3 separate regions of the Homo sapiens genome follow, and regions 2 and 3 are each linked to region 1. The links come from fine-mapping of genetic effects on plasma protein levels. A gene starts in region 1. Each other region holds a variant in brackets. All regions are shown on one strand. Distances are from middle to middle.

Region 1 (11,440 bases):
ATTTTTCATCTGCTACACAAGCCGCCTAAGTGTCTTCCACCTCTTTTTCTTGCAATAAAATATAGGTAATATAAATATGGTCTACGAGTTTCAAACCATACTGAGTTCCCACAACTTCTGATTTTACGAGACTACTAAAACCTAGCTGGCAGGTTTTAAAAATGCATAATACCAGTCCTGCGAAACACATTCAAGTAACACACAATGCTTTTGAGTAATCTTCGTAACCTTTTCAAAGAACAGCTGTAATTACCACAAATATCCCTTTAATGGTAGCCTATAGTTTTCTGAATAAATTCGAAATTCCAAAAAACTGCATTTTTAGAACCTCCTGAAATCATGGTGGTGATATGGTGACCACAGTTTCTAAATAGCATTGAGATACATATCTGACAAGAGATTCTTCTATTATTTCCAGATAGTAGGCCTGAGAAAGAAGCCTAGTGTTGACATGAGAGGCAATCTGTTTTACAGATTGATTCTTCATTTCTTGTGGCACTGCCCTCCAGGAGGGTGGGGAAAAAATGGGTGAAAAAAGATAAAAAGGCATCCTTGGCTTGCTCCTTTCTTTAATGGAACCAAGTTTTTGCCATTAAATATGATATTTACTCCTGATTTTGAATAAAAATCCTATCAAATTAAGAAAGTCTTCTTTCATTCCTAACTTACCAAGAGTTTTTATTCAGGGATGACTGTTAATTTCTACTGTTTGTTCCTCAGCTGACAATAAATTAAGCCTCATTCTGTCTGTACTTATAAGAAGCCTGATCTCTCCACACTATACTGAACAATGTTCTTGTACATTATCCTACTTGAATATGGACTAAGTTGTTTAGAAAGATGACAAGGTAGCATGGGTCAAAGAGCCACCTGCAACACAGCCATAACAATAAAGCTATTCCTTTAGTCCTGGGCAATGATTAGCTCTCTTTTCAGGCATTATTAGCTGTGAAATTTTTCTACATTTTCCATGGCCGGGAGAGCTATTATCTAGTATTAGTAAGTGTGGTTGGAAAAAAGTACACAGACAGTCCAATAATATGAGTTCAAATGCTGTCTTTTGAAAACCTCTTGAATCCTCAGCAAAAAGAACAAAGCTGGAGGCATTACACTACCCAACTTCAAACTATACCACAGGGCTACAGTAACCAAAACAGCATGGGACTGGTACAAAACAGGACACATAGACAAATGAAACAGAACCCAGAACCCAGAAATAAAGCTTCACACCTACAACTATCTGATCTTCAACAAACCTACAAAAACAAGCAATGGGGAAAGGATACCCTATTCAATACATGGTGCTGGGATAACTGGCTAGCCATGTGCAGAAGACTGAAACTGGGCCCTTTCCTTATACCATATACAAATATTAACTCAAAATGGATTAAAGACTTAAATGTAAAACCAAAAACTAGAAAAACCCTGGAAGACAATCTAGGCAACACCATTCTGGACATAAGAACAAGCAAAGATTTAATGACAAAGAAGACTCAAAAAGCAATTGCAGCAAAAGCAAAAATTGACAAATGGGATCTAATTAAACTAAAGAGTTTTTGCATAGCAAAGGAAACTATCAACAGAGTGAATAGACAACCTACCGAATGGGAGAAAAATTTTGCAAACTATGCATCTGACAAATGTCTAACATCAGCATCTCTAAGGAATTTTTTAAAATTTATGAGAAAAAACAACCCCAATAAAAGTAGGCAAAGGACATGAACAGGAACTTTTCAAAAGAAGACATACATGTGGCCAACAATCATATGAAAAGAAAGCTCAACATCACTGATTATTAGAGAAATGCAAATCCCAACCACAATGAGATACCATCTCACACCAGTCAGAAGAGCTATTATTAAAATAACAGATGCTGGCGAGGACGTGAAGAAAAAGGAATGCTTATACACTGCTGCAGGGAGTGTAAATTAGTTCAATCATTGTGGAAGACAGGGTGGCCTAGAGACTGAAATACCACTCAACCCAGCAATCCCATTACTGAATATATACCCAGAGAAATATAATCGTTCTGTCATAAAGACACATGCACACGTCTGTTCACTGCAGCACTATTCACAATAGCAAAGACATGGAATCAACCTAAATGCCCATCAGTGGTAGACTGGATAAAGAAAATGTGGTACATATACACCATGGAATACTATGCAGCCATAAGAAAGAACGAGATCAAGTCCTTTGCAGGGACATGGATGGAGCTAGAGGCCATTATCCTTAGCCAACTAATGCGGGAACAGAAAACCAAATACCAAACGTTCTCACTTACAAGTGGGAGATAAATATTGAGTACACATGGACACAAAGAAGGAAACCATAGACACTGGAGCCTACTTGAGGGTGGAGGGTGGGAGGAGGGAGAAGATTGAAAAAATAACTGATGGGCACTAGACTTAATACCTGGGTGACAAAATTATCTGTACAAGAAACCGCCATGATACAAGTTCCCCTGAACTTAAAAGTTAAATAAATTCTTTTTAATTTGGCTCTTTCACTTATTAGCTATGTGATTAGCTATGTGATCAAAGGCAAGTTTTTTAAGTCTTCTGAATTTGTTTTTTTACCTGCAAAATATGGATATTAATATGTCACTGTGCCTGACACATAAGATCTCAATAAACCATGTTAAATGAAACATATCAAACTGATATGTTTATTGTAATTAAACTGCTTACAATAGACTTGATGCAGAAATGGTGCTAGATATTCATAAATCTGTTGGCACCAATGAAGAGTTGCTGCATCAATAAAGATTTGGTACAGACAGACTTACAAAGAATATACATTAACAGCAAACCACATACACTTTATCATCTGTATGATCCTTCCCCACACGACTGATTAAGAAAAACAAATCTCACATACCTAGATGGCTCAAAAGCACTATCCTCCACTAATGGGGGGGATAACGGCAATTTCGTCTCCAGGCTGAAGCACGAGGAGCTGATCTCCAAGCTCGACATATTCTTGACGAACAGCAAATATTATCTGATTTCTAACATCAGCCAATCTAAAGGGGAAAAAATATGACTCAAAGTATCAACGCTATGATAGACCTCAAATCGCTTCAGCTGCAATTAGAGATATTACATAGATATAATTATATAAAGCATCACCTGCAAAATTACCAATTAAATTTACACATAGTATATGGAGAAAGGACATATCCACTGAAGAACATACTTATACACCACAAAGATACGTTAAACTGCTGTCAACTCTTTATTGGATGTTGTATGCCTTGGGGAATTAAACAACAAAAAAATGCACAAAAAACCCACCAGACTGGAGGCAACACTCAAACCAGGTCAAAAGAAAAGTTTCCAATCAGTACATGGCCTTTCCAGGGTCCTTCTATCCATGTGTTCAAGCACAAGTATAACTGCCCACAAACTATGCCTGTACACATTATCCTACTCGAATATGGATTAAGTTGCTTAGAAAGATGAAAAAGATAGCATAGGTCATAAAGCCACCTGCAACACAGCTTTATTAGCTGTTCCTTTATACCTGAACAATGGTAAGCTTTCTTTTCAGGCACAGTGAAAACGTATACAAGACCTGCTGTCTCCCTCCAGGTAAAGCAGAATGGGAGACCCCACTGTGTTTTATTGATTATCAGGCCACTGTAAGAGCAACTTAAAAGATACGAAATCATGAAGTGGTTTGCTTTTAAACACTTATTATGGAGTATCTTTTACACAGAACTAGGACTTCCAGGTTAAACACCTATACAAGCTAAGTAACACCATTAATATTCCTGAATCACCCTCAAATAAGTCACTTTTATATTTTGTTCCAAAAAGAACTTGAAGTGGGAATGACATAAGTAAAATTATAGGTTTTTCAAGAACCAGAAAAAAAATTAAATATTACAAAAACTCAAATTCAGCAGCATCTAGGATTTGTTGTAACTCATTTTTCTTTCAATCTTAGAAATTTCTATGTTGAGCTCTCTAAAGAGAGGGGCAGAACAAAATGTTTAAAGCACACATTTTTAACAGAATTTGTAACAATTTCATTTAATGTTATAAAATTGCAGAAGTGACATGTGCAGTGTTTTGTAAATTATCAAAGAGAATATAATCATGTCCCTCTGCGGTTCACTGTGTTTTGGGGTAAAATATCTTTAACCTTTCTTAAAATACGGTGCACATTTAGAGTTTTTCAGGTGTTCCAAAAAAAATACAACTAACGATTCTTTTTGACATTAAGCACGGAAATCGAAATTAACCTTTTTACTTTTATCATTTATGTATTTTGAAAATATCTAAGTGTTACTCATATGCATTCTACAAATTTTTAACTACCCAGGATGTCGAGTTTCTATCTCCTTCCACAGCTGCAACGCTTTTATTTCTTGAGGCACAGAAATGGTCTCTGAACGAACTCCTGTTATTTCAGCACTTTTTGCAAAATACAATACTTCAACCTGAAAGTAAAGAAAATGCTTTTAATAACAACTCATACTCGTTTTCTGACTGTCAATGTTGAGCAGTTTTCTCATTTTCCAAATGTATTGCTTTAATCAAAGACAAATTTTATAAAGAAAATTAAATAACCCGTAAAAAATTTCAGTATACCTACAAGTTCAAATTCTGAAAACTTGTTGTTTTAAATACAATTCAGACTAATTTCTGGATGCCTTTTAGTTTTACAAACTTAAGTGTGCCATCATTAAAATCCTAAGTATTTATCTTCTAGGAAAACATGTTAAGCCTGCCTTAATTGACATAAAAGTATAGCACCTTTTATAAATATGTAAGCAAAGAACAAATGTTTGAGTCAAGAGATGAGTTACACAAATAAAATAAATGAATAAATAAGCGAAAAACCTGTTTCTCACGGTTGTCAAATGACCTTAGATTCCGGTCTGTATAACATCGTCCCCAGACGCTAAGGATTAAGTTATGCAACATAGTAAATCTGACATTTACAGAAGCAAGTAGGTTTGAAACACACGACAGACTGGAATTTGCTAGAACAAACTTGTGCCAGCAGCCTGGTATGTAAGGGATCCGACGAAGTAAAATAGGCACCTGTCACTCCGTGCAAACAACTCTTTACGAAATAATTACAGGTTTGCAAATGATCAAGGGTGTAGAAATCCACAGATGAAGCACAGTTCTTCACAAGAATTCTCCATGAGGTGCATTTCTTTTTAGATTAAAATTTTAGCTTCATCAAAACGAATAATCTGGGAAAGAGGTGGTCATAAAAGGTGGAGGCGCCTTCAGAACGAGTCCGTCCTTGCTGCCGTGAGCTGACAAGAGTTCTCGGAGAGGACCCGACTTCTGCTGGGGCAGTCGCAGTAAAGCCCGGAGACAGGAAGGGCCCGGGGGCGGGGGCGGGGGCGCCCCCGAACCCAAGACGCCGGCCAGGTTGGGGGCTAGTGGGGAGGTCCGACTGACCAAGGCTGGGTATGTGGAGGGAAAGGGCGGGAGAGACACGTCGAGGAGGGCTCCGCACCCAGGCCCGCACGCACACCCGCCACCCTTACCTGGCACAGCGGCACCATCCCGCCTAGGACAGCGGGACCGAATCACGGCCGCAAAGGCGCAGGCGCGGGCTCACCCGGAGCGCAGGCGTAACCCGACGGCGCTCAGCCCCCGCCTGCGCCTGCACGGAGCATGCGCACAACCAGCTCCGCCCCGCGCCGGGCTCTAGCTGTTTCCCTCAGGCGGCCTGTTCCACGCCAGGATTAGTTTTGCTTCGCAGATGGGCCGTGGTGGTGAGAGGAAGCAATCAGTATGGAAATGGAGAAATGGCTTACCATGCATGTCCTTCTCCCCAGGAGGGAGGTCGTGGTGCAGGCGAGCAGACGCCAGACTCCTGGACACTTGCCGCCTGCGTTATGGAGGCTTAGCTAATAACCTTGCAGGGGTCTTCAGGCTTTTCCACTGGCTCACCTTTAGGCTTCTGACACTTTTACCTACGGTATGTGAACCTCGAAAATTTGAGACAGGTCTCAGTTAACTTAGAAAGTTTATTTTGCCAACGTTGAGGACATGCCCGTGACACAGCCTCAGGAAGTCCTGAGGACATGTGCCCAAGGTGGTCAGGGCACAGCTTGGTTTTATACATTTTGGGGAGACAGGAGACATCAATCAATATGTAAAAAGTACATTAGTTCCTTCCAGAAAGGCGGAGACCGTTAAAAGCAAGCCCCGCCCCCCCCAACTGGGGGCTTCCAGGTAGGTAATAGACAGTAGCATTCTTTTGAGTTTCTGATAAGTCTTTCTAAAGGAGGCAATCAGAATATGCATCTATTCTTTGTCAGCAAAAGAGGTGACTTGGATAGAATAGGAGGCAGATTTGCCCTGAGTAATTCCCAGTTTGAAGGGGCCCAAGATTTTTTTCTTTCCCAGGTATATGATTAGTGTTTCTTAAAGACAGAATATCCGCCTGGTCAGAACATTCGAACTGTATGACTTTTCCTGTTTATTGGCTGCTCGGTAATTGTATACTGTCCGTCCAACTTTCCCAATTCTTGCCAACAAGAACTCTTGGCTTTAAATTGCTTGCGTCGTTAAGTGGATGTAAGTTACACGTCCCTTTCCTTGGAGCTCACAGTCCTGGGTAGGAGAGTTTTAAATATGAATGATAATTCCCTGTAATACTAAGGATCTGTGTTACATTTCAAGGGTGGAAGGGGAAAGTGGTTGTGTCACCTGGGGAGTGAGAAGATGCTGAGAAGGTAAATCTGCTAGAATGGTGGCAGTAAATGACAAGAGTGGGAGTAGAGCACGAAGAAATTTCACTTGCCTCTGACAAGCCACAGGGATATGAAGAAGCATAATAAGTTCACAGAAGGGCAAGTAGTTGGCAAGGCAGGTGTGCCTCCAGCAAAGGAGGTGATGAGAAGTGAGGCTGGAGAGTCCTTGGTAGGAAAAATTGACAAGGAGCAATGAATACCAATGTGTATCCTGGTAAAGTTGCTAAACATAAAGGATAAAGACTATATTCACACCCAGGCATAAAAACAAGGGAATGACAATAGTGGCCTTAGACTCCTCAGTGGCATCTGATGGCAATGTGCAGTGTGTAAAAAAGGCTGAGAACAAAAGCATGATCCCATAATATTACAGCCAAACTGGTGGGGCAGGATTCTCCTAAATCAGCAAAAACTCAAAAAACACAATACCCAAGAACCCTTCTTAAAAATCTTTCTTGGGCAAAAAGTCCACTCAATCAAGAGTAATCAAAGTAAATAACTCAGCAATAAAGGTATTAATATGGGAAAAATGAAAAACTAAAAAAACTGGCATTGAGATTTTAACCCATTCAAACGTAAAACTAAGATATCAATTATGGGATATGATTATAAAATAAAATGTAAATGACATCAGAATATTAAAAAAAAATGGAAACTGTCCAAAGTGGGAACATATAGTTACAAAATATCAATTCAGGTTTCTTAATATTTTTCATAATCTTCTTTATTTTAGAAAATATTTTAGGAGCAACTATCTTTTACAAATAAACAATAATCTGATGATTTATAATCCTATCAGTTTCACCAGTTATTTTGTTGATAAATTCAAGTAAATATAGGTCAATAATATTGCCTTGCTTTCATTTTTTTATTTTCTAATTCCTAATGAGGTGAATCTTTTCATATTTTCATTGAGCACTTATACTTCTCTGTGAAGTTTCTGTTCACATCGTTTATTCATTATGCTGTAGATATGACACAGTTCTTTTTTTTTTTACAAAATACAGCCCCATCTATAATTTGTGGATATGCAAGCAAAACTGATACCAAAATATTCCAGGCTTATTCCATAGGCTTTGATTTTACTTTTCTTATGAATTCATTAATTAAATCAGTGAATCATCACAATGGTATATAAATTATTTTAGTAATAGCAAAATGACTTTATGAACATTTGCATTTCACTTAAGCTACAATTTTTTGTGAAAACATAGTTGGAGCCACCATTTTCCCAGTTATTTTTACCATAAGGAATCCTATTTGGTTAAGAAAAAAAACAAGTTGAGGCAAAAACATTTCCATTTTGTTTTCAGATTGAAAAAAGACGAGATTCCATGAGACTAGAAATGTAGGAGCATCTCAGACCTTCACAGAACGCTCTGTTAGAAGATGAGAAACATAACGTTGCTTGTGAGAGGTGAAGCCAGCTGGACTTCCTGGGTCGAGTGGGGACTTGGAGAACTTTTCTGTCTAGCTAAAGGATTATAAGTGCACCAATCAGCACTCTGTAAAAACACACCAGTCAGCGCTCTGTGTCTAGCTAAAGGATTGTAAATGCACCAATCAGCACTCTGTAAAATGGACCAATCAGTACCCTGTAAAATGGACCAATCAGCAGGACGTGGGCAGGGACAAATAAGGGAATAACAGCTGGCGCCCCTAGCCAGCAGTGGCAACCCACTCGGATCACCTTCCATGCTGTGGAAGCTTTGTTATTTCACTTTTCACAATAAATCTTAGGGTTGCTTACTTTTTGGGTCCATGCCACCTTGAAGAGCTGTAACACTCACCACGAAGGTCTGAGGCTTCATTCTTGAAGTCAGACTAAGAACCCACCGGAAGGAACCAATTCCAGACACACGTGTAGTAGCAAATTATCAAAAATGTTCATTGCCTTTTCTGAAAAACAATTTTCCCAGAAACACCTGGCAGAATCAGAGTTCATTGTGTCAAAAGAAAAACTTTGGACAAATTAAAATGAGCAAAGAACAATTTGTGAAATGTGCCCCTCTCCCAACCAGAACAGGTTCAAAGAGACTCCAGTGCTGCCACATGATCAAAGAATTATGGACAAAAAAAGCAAATAAATTACAGGAAAAGAAAATGAGGTACAGAAACAGCTGGATTGGTTACAGCTTGGTGTTTACCTTACTTGAACAAGGTTCGAACAGTTGGCTGCCTTTGATGGGCTGCAACACAGTGATTGGTATAAGAGTAGGTTACAGCCTGTTTACACATGCAGTTAGGTTACAATTCACTGTGTGTTGAGAAACCTTTAGGCCAAACTTAAAATTTGTAAGGAGGCAGCTTTAGGCTTAACTTGATTTAAAAGTTATTAGATGTTCCATCAGTCGTTTCGCCAATAGGTAATAGGTTTTTTTGGTTTTGTTTTCTGTGCTATTAAAATAGTATATAAAACTTGTCATCATTGATTCTGATTTATCATGTTACAGTTCAGTCTCTAATTGAACTGAGCCTATTTTTTTCCGTAAAATCCAACCTATTCATCCATTTATACAGATTTTTTAAAATCTAAATATTTTATATCAAATTGCTAAAAATGTTTAGTCACATTCTTTTTCTATTGCTGCCCATATATTTTCTGCCATCATTTTCAGCTGCTAAATAGTATCTAGTCCTAGATATCTGGTTACCCATTATCAGGAACTCTTCGTGAAATGCTTTAGTGACCTTGTTTAAGTCAGTAATAAAGTTGAGATTTATAATCATATTCTATTACCAAAAAAAATACAGGTAATAGATTTTCAAATGTCAGCCCATGTCTACTCCTTTATTTCCCAGTGTGGCAGAATTTTTGAACAGTGAAAATATTTCTGTCTGAGGAAGTTTGGACTATGTGGTGTGAGATCCGTAGACATTGGACTAATGTCATTAACATATTTTAATATTTAAATTTCTTATTAAAAAATAGATAATGCAGTAGTTACTTTTTGAAGGACGACCGAAGCAGGATATTTCCCTGACCCCTTCATGGGACCCACGTCAGAGGTGTTTACTCAGCCTGCTGCCCACAACTCCTCACAGGAGGGAGCGCACAAGTGAACGAGGGTGAGGACTGGAGAGCACCAGCACTGGAACAACCCGGCCACTTCGGCGCTACTGGGATCAAACTCCATCACTTGGACACACTGTGTTCCACCCCTCGTGGGAGGGAGCATGCAGGTGAGAGGATGCAGGAGTCAGGGTGAGCACTTTTGGGCTCCAGCAGGAGCAAACTCTGTGCAGGGCCCTGCAGCAGTGACTGAGGGGCGGCCTGTGACTCCCAAAGCCCCAGAGGACATGCTACAGTGCTCTTTTAGCTCTACCATCCGTAGGTGGCTTAAGTGTAAACAGCTCAGTGGGCCCTTTGCCTTTTTGCGTGAGGCAGCTGCCCTAGGCAAGAGTAAAGGGCCAGTGTCACAGCCTTCTGTATCTGCACTCATGACTCCTGAGCTCTTGTCCTGCATTCAGGGAAAATGAGGTTACACAAAAGAATTCACAGATGGTAAATGCGGGGTATTTTATTCCCAGTGAAAGTGGCTCTCAGCAGGAAGGAGAGCAGAAAAGGGGATGGGCTGGGTAGGTAACCTTCCCCTGAAGTCCTGCCATCTCTGGCTGGATTTTTCTCCAAAGTTACACCATCAAAATGTCCCTCTGAAATCAAGCCACTTCTCTCTGACATCCAGCCGTAGTCCCTCACGTCCAGTTGCTTCTCCTCTCTGCTGGCTGAGTCTGTGGTCTTTATAGCACAGGATGGCGGGCAGGGTGGGCCATGGGTAATTTAGGAAAAAGCAACATTTGAGCAGACAAAAGGGAGAGAAGTTCTCTACTTTGGGCTGCGGTTTCAGGCTTTTTGGCTTGAGGGTGGGGTTTTGTCAGGGACCCTCCCTTTTCTGCCTAAAATTTCTCTGCCTCCTGCCTCTATCACTGTATCACTAGTTTGAAGTAAACCCATCTGGAATTACTGATTTTAACAAATCACACAGAATTTCAAGCACCTTTCTATGCAAATGACTTGTGAAGACATAGAGTATAGTATGCCGTTAACAAACAGCCCAGCAGTGTGCCTTGCACCTTGTAGGTGTACAAAATATTAAGTCAATTTTATAATTGAAGGAGGTAATTTTAAAATGCTACATCCATGTTGTGTAATTTTATTCATTGGTCATTTTAAATAAAAACAAAAGCCAGAATAAACCATATATATTGTACTTGTTAGTTTATTCAAGGAAATTTAGGTCAAAAGAAGCACACCTCCTTGTGGTTAGTTATTCCAACTGCAAATCATTCACCTTAAAATGAAAGAACATGGCTATAGGAGCTTTTTGCAAATATGTTCTTCACTGATGATTTTCTAAAATGTATATATCAAATCCCCCAGTTTCAGATGCCAGAGGAAAGCCAGATCTTGTAATTTCATTTCTGCAAAAATCTAAGATATGCACAACAAATGGATTTTAGAAACAGAAAAATATACCACACAGATGTTGAACAATGAAAACCAAAGCTCTTTTTTTTTTTTTTTTTTGAGATGGAGTCTCACTCTGTCACCCAGGCTGGAGTGCAGTGGTGTGATCTCAGCTCACTGACACGGCTGCCTCCCGGGCACAAGTGATTCTCCTACCTCAGCCTCCCGAGTAGCTGCGATTACAGGCATGTGCCACCACGCCCGGCTAATGTTTTTGTATTTTTAGTAGAGACGGGGTTTCA
Region 2 (8,049 bases), 54 kb before region 1:
TGGGAAAGTTAAATCTTTGATTTTAGGATATTTATAAGATATCACATGATATTTAAATGAATTTATGTGAAGTAAATGAAATGAGAAGACCTTAGATTAAAACAGTAGGAAATGGGGCAATCTGTCATAATTTGTTAATATTCATCAGAGATTCAGACAAATTGAGCTCATGGATCACTTGGTGCAAATTAACAAAGACCACAGAATCTTAAACATACGAGTTTAAGTTTATTATGCTTATTACAATCAGTGGGAAATGTGAAATTATAACTATACAGGACTCTCTTGATTCTTATCTCAATTTCTCTATTTTCTCAGATCCACTGACCTTTCTTTTCACTCTATTTTTTATTTTATTTTTATTATACTTTAAGTTCTGGGATACATGTGCAGAACGTGCAGGTTCATTACATAGTATACACATGCCATGGTGATTTGCTGCACCCATCAACCCATATCTACATTAGGTACTTCTCCTAATGCTATCCCTCTCCTAGTCCCCCACCCCTTGACAGGCCCCAGTGTGTGATGTTCCCCTCCCTGTGTCCTCATTGTTCAATGTGCTCTCATTGTTCAGCTCCCACTTATGAGTGAGAACATGCAGTGTTTGGTTTTCTGTTCCTATGTAAGTTTGCTGAGAATGATGGTTTCCAGCTCCATCCATGTCCCTGCAAACCAGATACCTTCACAAAAATGCTAAACACACTCCG[G/A]TTGTTAAACAAATTAATGAGAACAACAAGCTTGCCTTCCCTTAAACCTATTCTCTCTCTTTGTCTTGTGCATTCCTTCTTTTTACCACCATAATTCTTTTTGAAAAAAGCAACTCTATTCCCTCCCTCTACTTCCTTGAAACTTACAGTTCTGCCACTAGATAAGCATGACCCTCTTCATCCCCCAACCCTGTGGTCCCACCTTAAACCTCATCCTTTCTGGCTCCTCTGAACATTTGATAATGATGAACATACGCTGCTATTCCTAACCAAGTTGCCATGACACCACAAACTTCTCGAACTCCTGCCAAATTCTTTTGCCTCTTCACTAGCTCCTTTTCCTATTTTTTCTTCACTAAACAGAGCCCTCTCTTCTTTACTGCTCTTCTCCTGTAGGGATTCTATCCACTGTCATGGCATCAGCAGCAGCACTGTTGGGTTATCTCATTGCTATGTTGTCAGCCCTACACTCTCTCCCAAAACTCACACTGGCATCTAGCTGATGATGAATATTTTTATTTGGAGTGTTGGCTCACTTACCAAATTCAATCTGTCCCACACTGGCCTTATTCTTTTCCCTACCACTCCTCATGAACTTGCCATTTTGATTCATGCCACTGTCTCTTGCCTAGTCAGTCGAACTAAAAATTTGGTTTCCTTTATTCTTTCCACTCTTCCTTATGTCACACATCTGGTCAGTGGCCACATCCTGTCATTTCTATTTCTGCATTTCCCATTTTATCTGTCTTCTTTTTCTGTGTGTGTATTTCAGTTGCTACTTCCGTCAACTGGTGACAATCCCAAATGTCTCAAAAGCAGATTCCCCACAAGAGAAGATATGATTGGTTTGGTTCATCATTACTGTCTCTATTCAGGGACAATAAAGGTTTTTTGGGCCAGGCCATCTCATAAGCTGCTGGCCAGTCAATAGGTCAGCTGCCATTAGGTGAAGCGCCCTTTCTGGACACAGCAAACTGGACTAAAAGGACAAAGAAGTTGAGATGAAAAATGGCTTTCCTGGAGTTAGAAACTGCAACGGCCCGGTTTTCAGCAGGGAAGGTGGGAGTAGCATTTTTCCCTGGAAGGAGCCTGGGGCCCTGGCGAGCTTTGTTCTCCAGGACAATGGCCACTGTCCATTGAGGAAGGACTTGCCTGGCTTTCATCATGTTTCAAAACTTTGGTTTTCTCCCTTGGGCCATTGTCTATCTCCCTCTTCCCACTATTTCCCAAGCTAACAGGTTTTAGTCTGCCCAGTGCTAGGAGAATCACCCAACATTTTACTCATCCCTCCTAGAATGTAATTGCCTGTCTCTCTCTCTCTGTCTGTCTCTCATCTCTTTCTTTAAAACATTGAAGATAATCTGAAATTATTTCAGTAATTGTTGCCATGTTTTCATTCACCTCATTTCATTCAATGCCTACAGTTGCAGTTTATTGTTTTAAGCACTGCGGGTAATTAAAACTAAATGAGACACAGTTTCTGTCCTCAAAAACCTTAGAATCATACATGAAATTTACAGTGTATCATAAAGAGAATGTGACACTCAGAAAGGATCTGATGTGGATAGTGTAATTCAAATTTGGCCGAAAAATGCAGAATATTTTCTATGTTTCTATAGTCTACATTATAGAATACAAAAAAGATTTTAGGAAATAAAATGATATGCTCAGTTTTATAATAAACTGAAACTCATATGTTTAAGATTCTGTGGCCTTTGTTAATTTGCACCAAGTTATCCATGAGCTCAATTTGTCTGAATCTCTGATGAATATTAACAAATTATGACAGATTGCCCCATTTCCTACTGTTTTAATCTAAGGTCTTCTCATTTCATTTACTTCATATAAATTCATTTAAACATCATGTAATATCTTATAAACATCCTAAAATCAAAGATTTAACTTTCCCGACTGCCTTCTTAAAGTATTCAAGACATAGAATGCTCTGATTTTTTTCTTTATTTGATACTATCTATTAAAATTTGAATTGTGTGTATCCTGTGTCCCAATAATTTTACTGCTAAGATTTTATCCCATTTGAAAAAGTATGCCAAGATATATACACAGGGATATTTATTACAGCCTTACTTGTAAAACTCAAAATGTCCTAAGCATCCAATAATGGGGAACCGGTTAAATAAACCAGTCTTCCTTCATATGGTCCTCCAAATAAAATATTATGCAGACATTTAAAAAAAGAATGAGACCTTCATGTATATACATGTGCTGATATGGAAAGGTCTCCATCAAAGTAAAAAACAACTGTTTAGAATATGCCCTCATTTGATGCAAAGGCATAAGAATGATACAGTGGACTCTGGGGACTCAGGGGGGAAATGGTGGGAAGCGGGTGAGGGATAAAAGACTACAAATTGGATTCAGTGTATTCTGCTCAGGTGATGGGTGCAAATCTCACAAACCACCACTAAAGAACTTATTTATATGACCAAATACCACCTGTTCCCCAAAAACCTATGGAAATAAAACATTTTTTAAAAAAGAATATGCCCTCATTTGAGTAAAAGTTTAAGGGGTAGACTATGCCTGTACCTATATTACATCTAAATAAAACATTTTCTAGAAGGAAATGCAAGAAACTGATAATGGTGCTTACCTGTGGAGAGGGGTTTAGTGTCACATTTGGTTTATACCTTTCCAAATACTTTGATTTTTTTTTAACTGTGGATATCTATTACTTTTAAAAAAATAAGTATTGATAAAGTAAACACAAGACTAATGCATAAAATTTATAACAGAAATATCTTTGCTTTATTAATTCATACTGATTAATTCAACTTTCTTAGAAGAAAAGAATTCTAAGGAATACTGGGATAAATACATGCACACATATACACACATATGCCCTGACACACAAGACATTGTTTTTAATGTCAAGCAAGACTTCCATTTGTATATGTTTCTCTACAAGCTACAAATGGAACATTAAATATGTCCTCAGAATTAATATGGAGTTACAATAGATTGTGTTTAAAGAAGCTAGTTTCATGTTTCTATTTTAAACCAGAGGTTCTCATATTAACTTCATATTTTGATAGCAAGTCTTTATTTAATTTTATCTGCCACAGAAAATATGCTTATTCAGCAGCTTCTGGTGGGCGACGAAGTGCTACGAAAGTAATGGTAGTTGTAACTGACGGTGAATCACATGATGGTTCAATGTTGAAAGCTGTGATTGATCAATGCAACCATGACAATATACTGAGGTTTGGCATAGCAGTAAGTGGCTTTTCTTTTCACTTGTCTTGCCGCTATTGGGTAAATCTTTCTTTATAGCATCACTTCTCAAGGCTGCACTTTCCCATTGGCTGTTCATAGTTGAATATAAAAGAAAGTTCTTACTCTATCTCTGCTTCTTGATGATTTTCAATCCTGTCTACTAAATAAAGGGTTATGGAAATGTTGCTTGATTTACTTTTCCAGAGGGAATATTGTGTTCAAAATAGGCTAGAATGTACTCATAGGGAAAATGTACAGCAGTAATGACTGCACATTCTCTTCCTCTATTTTCAAGGTTCTTGGGTACTTAAACAGAAACGCCCTTGATACTAAAAATTTAATAAAAGAAATAAAAGCAATCGCTAGTATTCCAACAGAAAGATACTTTTTCAATGTGTCTGATGAAGCAGCTCTACTAGAAAAGGCTGGGACATTAGGAGAACAAATTTTCAGCATTGAAGGTAAAAAAAATAACCTCCTTTCAAGAATTTTCTTCAAAATGTTTAAATAATTGTTTATTATCACATATTTGCTTTACTAATGTTAACTTGTATACCATGTATAAAAAGAGCTACTACAATCAGTAAGAGAAATGGATGAAAAACATGAATAAATAGTTTATAAATGATAAAATACAAATGACTGATAAACATAAGAAAATATTCCCAATTTACAAAGTATATTTCTAAATACTTTCAGTAAGTATTTAAAAACATAAATTAAACCGACAATATGTTTTGCCTAAAAGATGACACAGAATAATAATGTTTAATCCTGGAGAGATTATCAGGAAGCAAAGAAGCTCATACACTGTTGATAGGATGATAAATTGTTATGACTTTTGGGGGACAATGTATGAATATCTATCTATTAGAATCATAAATAGTTTTACCTTTTTACACTGTGTTATGTAAGTTCTAAAATTCTTGAATTTGTTTACAGTAAGCATATATATTTTTAAAATTAGAAAAATACAGCAAAGATTTTTAATAGTTCAGTTTTTGAGGAAGCATTTTATTTATAGGACCTAAAATAATTTACTTAGGTGGCCTTGGAAAATCTAGTTAGTGCAGAAAGATCACGTGTTCAGGAGCTCACTGTGTGGGGGACTAGCACACACTTCACAGTTGGTTAAAAGAAAAAAAAAACACACATCACCCAAATCCTAGTTCTTGATGGTTAACCCGAATAACTCTTTGCAATAAAGACCATATGTTATTGGAAACCTATGTATCAGGTACAGCCTTAGAGTCTGGGGCTAAAGGAATTGCATAAATTATTCATTCATATACTCAAATCTTGATTTGATTATCCATTGGAATTACCCAAAAAGCATTATTGCTTCTTCAGTATCCCATGGTGCTTCAAAGTTGTTTAAATAACCATTTAAATCCAGCATACCCTGAGATAACACAAAATCACTAGGCTATCCACACTGATAATTGTATTTGTTTGTAGTGGAATGAATGAGAACAATTGCAATCTACAAGCTAGCTAGAAATGATTTTGAGCATTATTTGCTATTATGGACTTTGGGGAACATTATTCTATTTTATTAAAAAGTATCTCTACTCATCCTGTGTAAATTATTTTATCTTCTAAATAAGACTATGTTGTACAGTACAGTTTGTCTTCTTTTCTATATTAAAGTGTGAGTCCAGTAATTTAGCTTCCTTTTGTGAAGATTAGTGAAACGTAGCCATTTTGATCACACTGTATGGAAAATAAGTACCAATTGCATCTTACAGTGTTAGTGACACAGGCAAGCACATATACAGAACCAGAACAAACTTCCCAATTGGTAAAATTCCTACTCAGTCTTGAATTCTGATTCCTAATAGCTAACTCAGTTATCTCCCAGCAGTCTTCACTACAGATCAATTGCCCAGCCCTTCCAACTGCATCTGAGATATGTGTACATTATCAGTACCCATATTTCAAAGCTAAAAATTCAGTTAGTTTCTTAGCTAGTAATGATCAAGTTTTTAAAAAATTATCATCTCAGTTTTCACCTTACCTTATACCCTTTGTTGAGTGTCCTTTGGTATCAAGAACGTCATACATATTCTGCTAAATACATTAATGTTCAATTAAAGTTAATGCCAACTTTGAACACTACCTTGGAAGTGTTGTTATTTCCATAACCTGCTAGAACACTTTCTTAGTAATTTCTTCTTCCCAGAATATGCAAGCTCTGTATTTTTGGGTGAGTATTGGAACAGTGTGTGTTTGTGTTTGTGTTTGTAGGCATGTGTGTACATACGTGCCTGCTTGTGTTTGAAAACTTGATTTAAAATTACTGACAGTAATACAATTTTTAAAATTGAATGTTCCAGGTACTGTTCAAGGAGGAGACAACTTTCAGATGGAAATGTCACAAGTGGGATTCAGTGCAGATTACTCTTCTCAAAATGTGCGTATATCAGATAGCTTCAAGCCATGTTGTCATTTGGCATAACACTTCCAGACACAGTAGCCTTATACATAAAATGGGAAGACAGCCATCTAGGGATCAGCCCTTCTGATTCCTAGTCACGGTCATTTAGTTTCTTTGTGCTGCTGATTTACCTCTAAAATTTGAAGGATAATAATGTCTTCCCTTCCCTGTTTCACAGGGATCTTATATGGGGGAAAACTGATAGTATACCAGAAAGTCTTTGAGTACCCCAGGGCACAGACTGTATATTAACTTAAGGTATTATTCCTGCAGGAATTTTCTTTGAATCAATTAACTACTGGAAATGTTTGTTAAAAACACGTACTCTTGTCATCACCGTCATGGTCGAATTCTGAATGGTCATAGTATCTTTTTCTAAGAGCAGACAGAAAAGAGTTGAAAAAATAAGGAGGTAGGAAAAACGTGAGGTGGAATTGGAATACAACACTGTCTTTTCAGCTCGGGGAAGTCTATTTCTATCTCTCAGAAACATCCACCTCCTGGGCCCCTGATTCTAATTTGAGTCAGGAGGTGAGAGAGATAGTGAAAGGAGGCGAAAAAAAAAAGAAAGAGATCCTGGGAATTATTTAAGGAACAGTAGGAAATCCCAGGATTTGATCGGCAGGTCAGAGGACCAAGAACAGCTTGTTTTCTATCTAGAATCAAAGGAACTGACTTTTTCTGGATCATCAATCCTTAGAGATGCTCATAGAAGTTATGGATCTTTCCCTCAGAAAAAATGTAAATGAATCTATGCACGGAGAATTTTGCACACAATCCCATGAGGTTTTTGTACATACGCTGAAGTCCTTTCATGCACCCCAAATCCAGAGTCCCTCAATTTACTACAGTCATTCACATAACTTCATGGTCTCTTATCCTCAAAGTAGAACACATCTTTTCCTTACTTGCTATTTTTCATGGCTTGTATTTTTTAGTCCAACATCTTATCTTTGGTACGCTCTAAGATAGAAGAACAAAAAATTAAAAATAGTGTATCTCATCCTCACCAAATCTGCCTCGTTTGATGATTTATAGCATTGAGTGTTTAGATTGGGTTTCAAGTCAATCCAGAGTAGGCATCTTCCTTTGCCCTCCCCACAGGGCTGACAAATGGTTATTTTCCTTCCAATAGATTGAATGTCACAGCTAAAGTTGCCTCTTGTAGCTGTGCTATTATCAAATAGATGGAATATAGGAATATACTGGAACATTTGAGAAGGGGTCAGGAAGAGAGAGGAAGAAAGCTGAAAGTAGAACAGGTCAGAAGAGGGCCTCCCGAGCCGTGTCTGGGATAGCAGAAGTATCTCCGTCTCTCCCGTGTCAGTACTTCTGTTTCTCAAGCATGTCTCATATCCGGCTGTGAGCTTTCCTTATAAATATGTGGAGTGAGAGACTCACTTCTGACTCCTTTGTAAAGTTCATAAGGGTTTACCATTGGCAAATATATGCCTTTGAAAGGGAAATTTGAAGATGGCTCTGTACCTGTCCTGTACTACAGGTTATTACAAAGGTTTGTCTGTATAACATATCATACTAAATAAAGTCCAAAATAACACAGCCAATGGGAAGGCTTGTTCTCTAGCACAAATATATTAAGACAATTCTACAATATGTCAATATATGTTCATATATATTTCATCATTTTTAATAAATCTAAACAAC
Region 3 (11,440 bases), 87 kb before region 1:
TAATACTTGTGATTGTATTATGAAATTCTTGAAGTGAGTATTTCAGCTGTATCAGATGAATATTTCTTTCTTGAAATAGTCATTTTGTCTTTCAGCTCCTGTATTATTTTGTTGTATTCCTGAGATTCCTTGGATTGGGTTTTGACTTTTTCTCCTGAACCTTGATGATCTTCATTTCTATTCATATTGTGAATTCTAGTTCTGTCATTTCAGCCACTTCAGCCTGGGTAAGAACCATTGCTGGGGAACTAGTGCTGTTGTTTGGAAGTAAGGAGACATTCTGGCTTTATGAGTTGTCAGAGTTCATGGGCTGTTTCTTTGTCATCCGTGTGGGCTGATATTCCTTCAGTCTTTGAAATTGCTACTTTTTGGATGGGTTGTTTTTTGCTTTTATCTTCTTTGATGCACTTGGAGGATGTGATTGTGGTGTTTAGTGAACTGGCATTGTCTCTGTAAGATTATAGGGAGCAAAGGCTCAGCCCTGCACTCCTAGGCTTCATACTCTAACTCTGAGGAACTGGCATTGGGCCCCCCCGCTTTGTTCTCTGGTCTTTCAAGGTTAGGCATCTGCTGCACTGGAGGGGCCAAAGTGTTCATGCTCTATATTGTCCACAACACTCCGATGGGGGAATGCCAGCCAAAGCTCTTTGTTGGGGTGGTGGCAGCAGGATCCATCGTCACTTTTATGTGACAGCAGCTGTGGCAGCATGGCCGTGTGCCCATGTGTCAGCTGGGGTGGGGCTCCAGAAGGAGCAGGGTGGCAGCAACCTGCTGGCGGTGCATGGTAGCAGTACAGCAGGGGCAGGGCACCAGTGGGGATGAGGTTGCCAGTATTCCTGTGTGCATTCATGCCAGCATAGCAGGCTGCCCACACATCAGCTGGGGGTATGGTAGGATGAGCATGCACTGGCAGGGGAGGAGAGACAAGGTCTTCTGGCATGTGTGGGCCAGCAAAGCAGTGTTGGGGGGATGTGGAGGGGTGTGAGGCATGGGTAAGCGCATGCTGGCAAAATGCTGGGGAGAGGCTGCGGTTGGGGAGGCTGTGGCTGGGGGAGGCTGCAGGTAAACCATTATGCATCGGTAGGGGCTGTTCTGCTGGAGCCCTCTGATGGCCAGGCATGGTCTGTCAGTGCAGGAGCTCTGATGAGGTGCCCTAGGAAGCACTCTGGTTGGGCATCTGAAGCTGCTCTGCAAGAGGCCATGGTCAGGCTGGAGCTCCAGGAAAGGCCAGCAGACAGGAGATGCTCAGATAGGACTGGCCCCATCCCACGGGCAAGACTGCCCTGCTCTGTCCGGGTCCAACAGTCACCCTAAGGCTAAAGTCTCCTATAGGAGCACGGCAGGCCTTGAGGGATGGGCGTTCTTGGCCATATTCTGCTGTTGTTAAATCCTCTGGGCTCCCCACTGGCTGGAGTCTGCCTTTGCCACCTCTCTAAGCAGCTGTCTTTGTGTCAGCTCAGGTGTCCGTGGGGGTCGTGAGTTCCGCTGCTAGGATGCTGGAGGTCCATGGCAGGAGCAGGCCACTCCTCACCTGTTCAACTGACCCCAGAAGTTGCTGGGGACCAGGAAGGATTCCTGGTGCTGGGCAGCCTCGTGTAGGGCTCCTAGCTTTCTCCCCCTTCAGCCCAGCATCCGTGTCCTCCCTCATCCACTCTCAATGCCTTCCCTGCAAAGACCTGTTCAGAGTGTGTGCCAGCCTTCCCAATGTCCTGGTTTCTCGGTCGGAGAGGTTTCTTCGGGCTGCCTCTAGTCAGCCATCTTGGCTCCCGTCTTGGTATAGTTTTTGAGTAACACAAAGAGGATTATAGAAAGCATATAAAATATTTGTAGAAATTACATTTATTCTTGAAGAGGTCATGTCTAAAATTAGTGAAATACTCTTTAAAACATTTTGTTTTTTAGGCTGGGCACGGTGGCTCACGCCTGTAAATTCCAGCACTTTGGGAGGCCGAGGCACGTGGGTCTCCTGAGGTCAGGAATTCGAGACCAGCTTGACCAATATGATGAAACCCTATCTCTACTAAAAATACAAAAATTAGCAGGGCGTGGTGGTACACGCCTGTAATCCCAGCTACTCAGGAGGCTGAGATATGAGAATTGCTTGAACCCGGGAGGCGGAGGTTGCAGTGAGCGGAGATCGTGCCATTGCTCTCCAGCCTGGGTAACAGAGCGAGACTCCAGTCTCAAAATAAATAAATAAATAAATAAATAAACGTCAAATAAATAAATAAAACATTTTGTTTTTTAAATGAAAATAAAGGGTACTTTAAAAAAATAATTTTAAAATAAGTTGAATTATTTAAAAATGATTCAATGATTTATTGAACCACAAAGGATAAAAGAAGTAATTCATATAAATAAGCAAACTCATTAATTTTTTATCTTGAGCAAAATATATAAATTAGTTACCCACGGTCACCTGTGACCTAAAAATATTAAATGGAAAATTTCAAAAGTAAATAAGTCATAAGTTTAAAATTGTGTATCGTTCCGAGTAGTGTGACAAAATCTCACTCCATCCTGCCCAGGATGTGAATCGTCCCTTTGTCCAGCAGGCTGTCTGAGGCCCCTGCCCATTAGTCATGTAGGAGCCATCTTGGTTATCAGATCAACAGTCATGGTATTGCAGGGCTTGTGTCTGAGTCACCCTTATTTATTTATTTAGAGATGGAATCTTGCTCTGTGGTCCAGGCTGCAGTGCAGTGGCATGATCTCGGCTCACTCCAACTTCCACCTCCTGGGTTCAAGCAATTCTCCTGCCTCACCCTGCCATGTAGCTGGGAGTACAGGCATGTGCCACCATGCCCAGCTATTTTTTGTATTTTTAGTAGAGATGTGGTTTCCCCATCTTGGCCAGGCTGGTCTTGAACTCCTTACCTCAGGTGATCTGTCCACCTCGGCCTCCCAAAGTACTGGGATTACAGGCGTGAGCCACCATGCCTGGCCAAGTCATCCTTATTTTACTTCATAATGGCCCCAAAGTGCAAGAGTAGTAATGCTGGCATATTATTATAATTGTTCTGTTTTATTATTAGTTGTTGTTTTTAATCTCTTGTTGTGTCTAATTTTATAAGTTAGATGTTATTATAGGTATGTATATATAGAAAAAACAGTATATACCATATAGGGTTTGGTATTACCTATTGTTTTAGGCATCTACTGGAGGGATGGGAGGATCTTAGAACACATTCCCTGAGGATAAGAGAGAATTAATGTAATTCTCATTCCTGCACTAAGAACAATGTTTACCACATCATAAATACTCAATAAGTTTATTGAGTGAACAAAAAATAAATAGGAAAATAAAATCTGTTTATTAACTGTGTGTATAAATTCATTAGTTTTGTATTATGGACAGTTTTGAATAGAGAGAGAAAAAACATAGAATCATGGAGAAAATATCACAAGTTATCATACAGATATGAACAAGTTTATACAAGACTTATTACAAACATAGAGTTCCATGGAATTGAAGTGTTATTATGTGACCATTTGAGTTACTGAGATGAAAGACATTTATAACCATTGCACTTTTAAGTCTATAGGCATAAATGTAGGGATCCCATTCTTAGGACATGCCTAGCAAATGAAAGTAAGAGTCAAATGCAACCCAATGGGCCAGAGTTTCCTTTATATATTGTAAATTATATATTTGTGCATGTGACAATAAGATTACACACTGCAAATGATGTTGAAATAAAATAGCTCATGCTTATAGTCCTTCTAGTCCAGGGTAGGAGAAGCAATTTTCTTTCTTCATTATTTTATCCTGATTCTTATTTTTATTTTATTTTATTATTATTATTATTTTTTTTTTGGTGAGGTGGAGTTTCACTCTGTCACCCAGGCTGGAGTGCAGTGGCTCGATCTTGGCTCACTGCAACCTCCGCCTTCCGGGCTCAAGTGATTAACCTGCCTCAGCCTCCCGAGTAGCTGGGACTACAGGTATGTGCCACCATGTCCGGCTAATTTTTTTTTTTTTTTTTTGTATTTTTAGTAGAGACGGGGTTTCACTATGTTGGCCAGGCTGGTCTCAAACTTCTGACCTCAGGTGATCCACCCACCTTGGCCTCCCAAAGTGGTGGGATTATAGGCATGAGCCACCGTGCCGGCCTTTTTATCTTGATTCTTATACACTAAAGGAAAATTTAAAAGCAGCTACATTACACTCACAATTGTACTGTTTGTTGTGTTACTATTCACATATATTTTACCTTTTTCTTCTATTCTGAATATTATTTTTGTTATTTTATTTTCGTTAAGCACTGTCATCTTCTTCACAATTGCTGTTTTTTTAATGGCAGGATAAAACTCTGTCTAGTTTATATGCTACCATTTGCATATTCACGCCCCTAATCTTGGACATTCAGATAATTTTAATGGTGGTTATTAAGAACTAATTTTTTTAGATTGCTAGAAATTATTAAAGCTATTTAATATGTATAAAGTGTGTTTTCTTAGGCCACCTAAGACTGAGAGATGACATAAAATACAAAATTTTTATTAGCAAAATAGAATTTCTGTGGCCCAGCCACCTACTTACACACACAGAGAGCCTAAGTGCCTAAACACTGTTTTCTCATTCTTCCGGAGTAGATAACATTCTCCCAGACTCTAGAGCATGGTTCTCCTGGAAACCTTTGCTGCCCCTAATTGTGTCCCCTGTGTCCTGATCACTATTGCACCACGGCCCCTGCCCTCGGCATGCTCTAGTTGCTCACTATCCTCTGCCCTCTTCCCTGTCAATCCTTCTGCAGCTACTGAGGACCAGTCCCTCAGGCATGGGAGAAATGTGCTCCACCTTCTTAAAGTAATGACACTCTGTGCTCACAGTTAGAGATAGGCCTTACAGTTCTTATGTTTTTGTTCAATATTTAATGGAGACATTGTTCCCCCTAGAAGTGCAGTATGCATCTTCAGGAATGGGCCAAATTGCAATCTGAGAGGCTGTGTCAAAACCACACCTCTATTCCCAAGTCCACCTCTTGCTTTTGGCCTTTGCTCTCTTCTCTTAACCTGAATTTCTTCCTATGTATGTCCCTGGGCACGTTTTGCAAATGAGTCCCTTCTATGAAAAACCCATCCCTGCCCCTGGCCCTTCAGTATATATAGATATGCTCAAATTTGCATTGACCACAAAAGTTAGACCCTTTTATTTTGCCACCCTTTACTACAAAATGCATCCTTTAGTTCTGACACTGATATCATAGACATCAATAAACTTCCCTTGCCAAATTTTTGTGGTTGAATATAAAATGACATGTTTTGTTTTATACATTATTTACGCTCTTGTTGTTAAAAGACTTTTTCCTTTCTGAGTTTCACTGCATTTTTTTTTTTGGGGGACAGGGTCTTACTTTGTTGCCCAGGCTGAAGTACAGTGGCACAATCACAGTTCACTGCAGCCTTGAACTCCTGGGCTCAAATGATCCTCCTGTCTTAGACGGCCATTGAGATTACACGTGTGAGCTGCCATGCTCAGGCTTTGCTACATTTTTAGAACAAAAGTAGGTTAACTATATCAAATCCCCAATCATATGTTTCTCTTTTGAATTATAACTTAAAATTATGCTCCAGAAGAAAGTAGGAGAATAAATTTCATATTTACTAAAATTAATTCTTAAATTATTGTTTCCAAAAAAATTATTTCAGAGATGGTCAGGAATCCTCAGGAAAGGAGATCCTGTAAATTTTTGTTTGTTTGATTTAGAGACAGAGTCTCTGTCACCCAGTCTGCAGTGCAGTGGTGCCATCATGGCTCACTGCAGCCTGGACCTCCTGAACTCAAGCAATACTCTCATCTCAGCCTCCCAAGTAGCTGGAACTACAGGCATGCACCACCATGCCCACCTAATTGTCTATTTTTTGTAGAGATGAGGTCTCATTGTGCTGCCAAGGACGGTCTTGCACTCCTGGATTCAAGCTATCCTCCTGCCTCAGACTCTAAGAAAAATAAGAAATCTACATGAGTTAACTTATGCTTGACTATCTGGTTTACTTATGGATATTAAAATGGCAACCAGCCTGTTATAATCTAGGATGAAACAGTATCCCCTTTTTATTGTGAAAATAGAGGAAACTAGTTAGCCCTGCATGAGATAAAATGTATTTGGTGTAAGCTTTCGTGAGATTTACTGGAATACTTTGGCCTGGTTACTGTCAACACGTGTCTGACAAGGTCACCTTTGTTAAATATGTTGAGTTTGCGATGCTATTATTGCCTTTCCAGGCATTCACATGAGGACAAAGAAGGAAGATTTATACTCTGGGTGATAATAGGCTCCTGGCAAAGCCCAAGTCAGTTGAAGACTCACTGCATCTAATAGAGAACTGGAAATGTATAGATTAATGAAGCAACCTATGACT[C/T]TCTGTGCCAGACTTTTCACCATTGCCGTACTCTTCTCTTTCACACCCTATGCCTACGTTTAACATGATGTTCCCGGTGCCTGGGATGAACTTTGCCTTCCTCTTTATGTAGTGAATTCCAACTTGTCCTCCAAGATCCAGATTAATTGCCATCTCCTCTGTGAAACCTTTGAACTTAGATTTACCCTCTTCTCAATACTGAGCTCAAGGTTCTTTTTACCACTCTTTATTTTAACACTTATACATTTTGATGCCATTTTTTTTAGTAAAATTACCATAATGGAAATGCAAAGAGAACAGGGAGATTTTAGTTTTATTTATTTGCAGTATCCTCAGGACCTTAAAAAACGCCTGGTACAAAGGAGCTGTATAAACATATGTTGAATGATCCATTTTTTAAGTATGTATAGACACATGGGCATGGTTTGGAGGAAGGAAACAAGATGAACCAAATATGGTTCTTATTATCCATATGATTCAGTTGAACTATGAGGACAGACATCAGAAGATATAGGCACTGGGATTGCAAAGAAGAAATACATGTTGAATTAGACAGAATACTTCCATTAATTTTTTATGAGCTATTTAGATATCATATGCCAAGTGTGAAATGATGACAGAGATCTGAATTGTAAATACATATTAAGAGAAAAAGTATAGAGAATTGAGATTGTCCAGATTTATCAAAAGAGGCAGGATATAAAGGGAAAGATTTAAGTAGCTGAAAAGAGATTTAGTATCAATGGAATGAAGGGATGGTGATAAAGAAGGTCATGCTTTGTGAGGAAAAATGAGCAGATCATTTATGAATAGAAATTCTGGACAATAAAGTTGAGAGATGAGCCAAACCTAGACTCAGAGTGGGTGACATTGCGCAAGAAAGACATTTAGCCTTCATGAGTTTCAGTTTCCTTATTTGTAATTTGTTAATAATAGCTTGGTTTTGCTGTTCCACAGGATTGTTGTGGCACTCAAATGAGTCAGGATGATTCTGACATAGGCAGACATAAGCATTAAGAAACAGTAAGATGCGAGTTGGAATAAACATTATAATTTAAATAGAGGAAAAATACTGGAAGGAAATACATCTGAATTAACTGAACTTACAGTAGAAAGAAAAGATTATGAATGATTTTTCCCTTGAGTTTTCTCTATATTCCAAATCATTATTGAAGAACATATAGTAATTAAAATGCATTTTATTAAAAAAAAATCCTAGGTGCTGAGAAAGTAAGAGTGAATAAAAGAAACAAGGTTTGACTTCTCAAGGAGCTTACATTTTAGTAGGCACAGACAAAAGAATATGGCTATATAAGATAATTTTGGATAATTGCTCTAGTAGTGATACAGTGATGAAGAAGGGTGCTGCTGCTACACAGAGGGCCAAGGGAGAGCAGAGACCTATTTGAGCAAAGTCCTACATGCCGTATTAGGTGAGGATGTTATAGGCAGTGGAACAGGCAGCTGCAAAGCGCATAAGCAGAATGAGCTGCATGTGTTCAAAAAACAGAAGGAAAGTGAGTGTGGCTGGAACACAGGGAGGGAGGACGAGAGTGGTCGGAAGTGAAGTCAGAAAGATACACCAGGGCTCAATCATGAAGGACCTTTGAATTTACAGTGAGGACATTGGATTTTATTCTCAGTTCAATGGCAAGACATAAGTTAATAATATATATCTATGCATATATAGTAACACATATATGCCTATATATGTGAATTGCTGTATAATTGAACTGCTAAATGATAAAATGAACTCCATCATAATTTCCTGCCATTAAATGATCTGCCCAGGTCTAATTAATGGGGGAAAATGAGGTTGTTTTATGTACAGTCACGTGTCCTTTCCAGAATTAGGTATTTTAAAGGTGAAAGCAGTTTGGCATCATCTCTCCACGCTAATATGTTAGATGATTGATAACATATTCAAATAGCATTTATTGAGCTCTCCACAATGGGGTGAAGATAAATGTTGGTTGAAAACACCAGGTATTTTGCATGCCAATTCTGGATCTCTGCTTAATTTGCTGTTATTTTCTTTTGCATTTTTTTATTATTCAAAAATAAAAAGGAGCAATGGAGCATATGAAAAATAGATGTTAAGGAGAAAATTTGCAGATGTTAAGCTTTGCAGATTTTGCTATAGAGTATTTCAGAATGAGTATTTGTGTTTCTCTTCATGGCAGCACATTATTTGTAAGAAATAAAAAGCTGAATTCCTTGTGTGGACAAATCCCTGATACAGTGATTTTGGCACTTACAGAGGGACGTTAACTACTTAAAGTCCCCGTTGCTTCATCATTGACTTCATTATCATTTTGGAGCACTCTACAGAATCTGCTCCCTGAAATGCAGAGGCGCAATGGAAGAGCAAGCCTTTTTCTTCCGGCCTTTCAGTGCCTAAAACAATAGACATATGAAATACCATGCACTTGCAATGCTGCCTAGAAAGTAGGACATTTCTTTGTGAAAGCACATGTTAATGGAACTTTGATGTCAATTTTAAAGAGTCCATTCTGTCTTCAGTGTCTGCGAAGGTAAATATTGATCTTAAGCAACATGAGGCATATTCCCATCTCCAGAGAGAGCATTAATATCCACACAACCTTCTTTCTGTAGGATGAAGAACTGGCAGCATTAATGCTGTCAGTGTCATACAGAGAAACATGATTTGCCTTATTCCTTTCCTTCATTCCCTTTCCATCAGAAATAAGAATTTTCAAAAAAAATAAAATAAAATCTATCAAGGCTTTATATGCCTTGGTCTTTGTTCTGTTTTTTGAAATGATTAGCATTTCTCAATCATTCAGAAAGAAGCATCAAAAACAAAACACTTTTGACAGTTCCCACTGGAATAAAAAAGATATGACACCAATCCCTACATTTTCATCCTCAAAAATGATAATGATCACTTCTGAAAGAAAATGATAACAATTTTCAAGGAGCTGTGATTTTCTATCTCCTTTGATGTAGTCATCAATGCCTTTTCGACAGATGTTTCATATAGAGTCCATGTCAAGATGTTCAAGGTGATTCAGAATAAATAGATGATACCCTTCAGCCCTTGCCCTTGGGTGGCTTAGAGTCTTGTTGTTTTGGGAAGGACAAATATAACTCAAATTACTTAAGAATACTTAGAGATAATTTAGTTGTTTTAAGTCTTGTGTTCAAATTTTGTCTTCATCCTTTCCTCTTTCCAGCTGTGAGATATACTTGTCCCCTGGAACCTCAAAATTCTCTGCAAAACAAAGATAATATTAGTAACTATCTTCTAGCATTTCCATGAAGATTAGTAAGATAATGAATTATGCATATATAGTATTTAGCTTGGTGCCGGGCCTCCAAATAAGTACTTAAAAAGCAGTAGTTATTTTTTCTGGGTAAACGTTGATAAGTAATAATTATTAGGTCAAGCAAGTTTTCTTAAAAATGGCCTTTGAGAATTATACGACACACTTATATTCATGAATTGTAAATATGTGCTATTTCATATTTTTCTTAATAGGCATTTTAAATTGTTGTTTGGCCTACAATGTTGGTCTCCCAGAAGCAAAAATATTTTCCGGTCCTTCAAGTGAACAGTTTGGCTATGCAGTGCAGCAGTTTATAAATCCAAAAGGCAACTGGTAAGAATATTCTCTTCTTTATGATTTCAGTAAAAATACAAAATAAATTTCATATTTGACTTCAATTGCTTTTTCAAATTGGTGCCTGACTGTACTATAAATGGGTGGCCCTCAAATATCCTTAAATGAACAATCTTTCTTTGAGAGTTGACAACTGCAGACTGATCATTAATGGGATGGTATAATGGTTCATTTTTAAAAACCTGGATAGAAAGTTTTCTCTAAATATTCAAAAGCAAATTTATAATACCAGTTTTGACCATTAATACATAGGTAGGTAGATTGATAGAATGATAGATTTGTCTTCATTTCTGATCATGTAAACTGATATTCATTGAACTTTGTAAATCATTACCTAGTTATTAATGCTATCTCTGGACCATTTCTAAATGGTAGAATTGTTTCCTACATTTTTTTCTTTAGCAAGGTTTTGTCTACTTGCTTCATTCTAAGTTAGGCTTTTGCCCTCCTTGTGGTGAAGGGTCCTCACAAATATCAATGCAAAATGTACAAAGGTGGCTTTCTCTAGCATATTAACACCTTTTGTTTTTGCCCCAAAGTGCTCCCAGTTTTTACATGCTATGTGATGGTTACATTTTCAAACCATGGCTTTTCTACCCAGGTGAAAAACAACCACCTCAATGGAGATGGAAATCTAGTTCCCATAATACTAATGCAAGTGAACCCAGAGAAATGAGGTAATTTGAAAGTTGTATTTGGGAAGAAGCGCTGTAGCTCCTATTCTGCCAGAGTTCATGCCCACTGGTGGACACAGGTCCTGCCATGGGGACCTTATCTCCTTGTTGCAGCAGGAGGCTCCAACCATCCCCACTCACCCTGGAACTTCAGATTCTGAATCTCCACTCTCTAGAGCTCTTTTCAGTGATTAAATGGGCTGTTGTTGGCTTATCAAATAAGAACCGTAATGTATGGCCAAGTGCAGTGGCTCACGCTTGTAATCCCAGCACTTTGGGAGGCTGAGGTGGGAGGATCACTTGAGCCTAAGAGTTAGAGACCACCTGGGCAACACAGTGAGACCTCATCTCTATTAAAAACCTGAAAATCAGCTGGATATGGAGGTGCATGCCTGCAGTCCCAGCTACTCAGGAAGCCGAGCTGGGAGGTTGGCTTGAGCCCAGGAGTTTGAGGCTGCAGTGACCTATGTTGGCACCGCTGCACTCCAGCCTGAGTGACTGAGTAAGATCCTGTCTCAAAAAAAAAAGAGGAAAAAACCGTAACTGTAATTCATAAGCCTTTTTTTCTGTGTGAACTTCCATTTGATACTCTAAACAATTGAATTCAAAGAAAGGTTCAGGATCACATGTTGGGGCATGCCTGTCTATTTGATGAGGAAACAAAATGAAATCATCCCCTGAGAGGGCAGCATTTCTCAGCAGGCATCTTGGAGGATGTAAATCGTGAGCTGGGTTTTAAGTAGTGAGGATGAAGAG

Direction of the effects. Positions count from the first base shown, and alleles are read on the strand shown. Strength reflects both the effect of a copy and how common the allele is.
With allele G in place of A in region 2, the plasma level of the protein whose gene starts at base 5,561 in region 1 is higher (moderate association).
For the plasma level of the protein whose gene starts at base 5,561 in region 1, allele T in region 3 goes with a lower level than allele C (moderate association).

What was found. A credible set is the group of variants that fine-mapping cannot tell apart. PIP is the chance, under the fine-mapping model, that this variant and not a neighbour inherited with it causes the effect. The UK Biobank Pharma Proteomics Project read protein levels with antibody pairs (Olink). The fine-mapping took linkage between variants from a reference panel, not from the people measured, so its PIPs are less certain.
Region 2: its variant is the best candidate, but not a certain one, in a credible set for the plasma level of the MOCS2 protein (UK Biobank, PIP 0.58).
Region 3: its variant is the best candidate, but not a certain one, in a credible set for the plasma level of the MOCS2 protein (UK Biobank, PIP 0.56).

What each region holds. Positions count from the first base shown.
Region 1 is chr5:53,104,197-53,115,636 of GRCh38, forward strand. MOCS2 (molybdenum cofactor synthesis 2) reads right to left here and starts at 5,561. Exons shown (of 7, transcript NM_004531.5): 1 at 5,055-5,561; 2 at 4,326-4,447; 3 at 2,881-3,025. The coding sequence starts at 2,978. MOCS2-DT (MOCS2 divergent transcript) reads left to right here and starts at 5,646. Exons shown (of 2, transcript NR_104654.1): 1 at 5,646-5,952; 2 at 9,663-10,930. RefSeq lists a silencer at 5,300-5,589 and an enhancer at 9,947-10,446.
Region 2 is chr5:53,051,742-53,059,790 of GRCh38, forward strand. It overlaps ITGA2 (integrin subunit alpha 2), which reads left to right. Exons shown (of 30, transcript NM_002203.4): 8 at 3,797-3,947; 9 at 4,243-4,408; 10 at 6,284-6,360. Among named protein-coding and RNA genes, the nearest start is that of MOCS2, 54 kb to the right of the region's middle. The variant G/A (reference allele first, on the strand shown) is at 711.
Region 3 is chr5:53,016,880-53,028,319 of GRCh38, forward strand. ITGA2 (integrin subunit alpha 2) reads left to right here. Exons shown (of 30, transcript NM_002203.4): 2 at 9,869-9,989. It overlaps LOC124900974 (a long non-coding RNA gene), which reads right to left. Exons shown (of 2, transcript XR_007058767.1): 2 at 6,668-9,601. Among named protein-coding and RNA genes, the nearest start is that of ITGA2-AS1, 32 kb to the left of the region's middle. The variant C/T (reference allele first, on the strand shown) is at 6,367.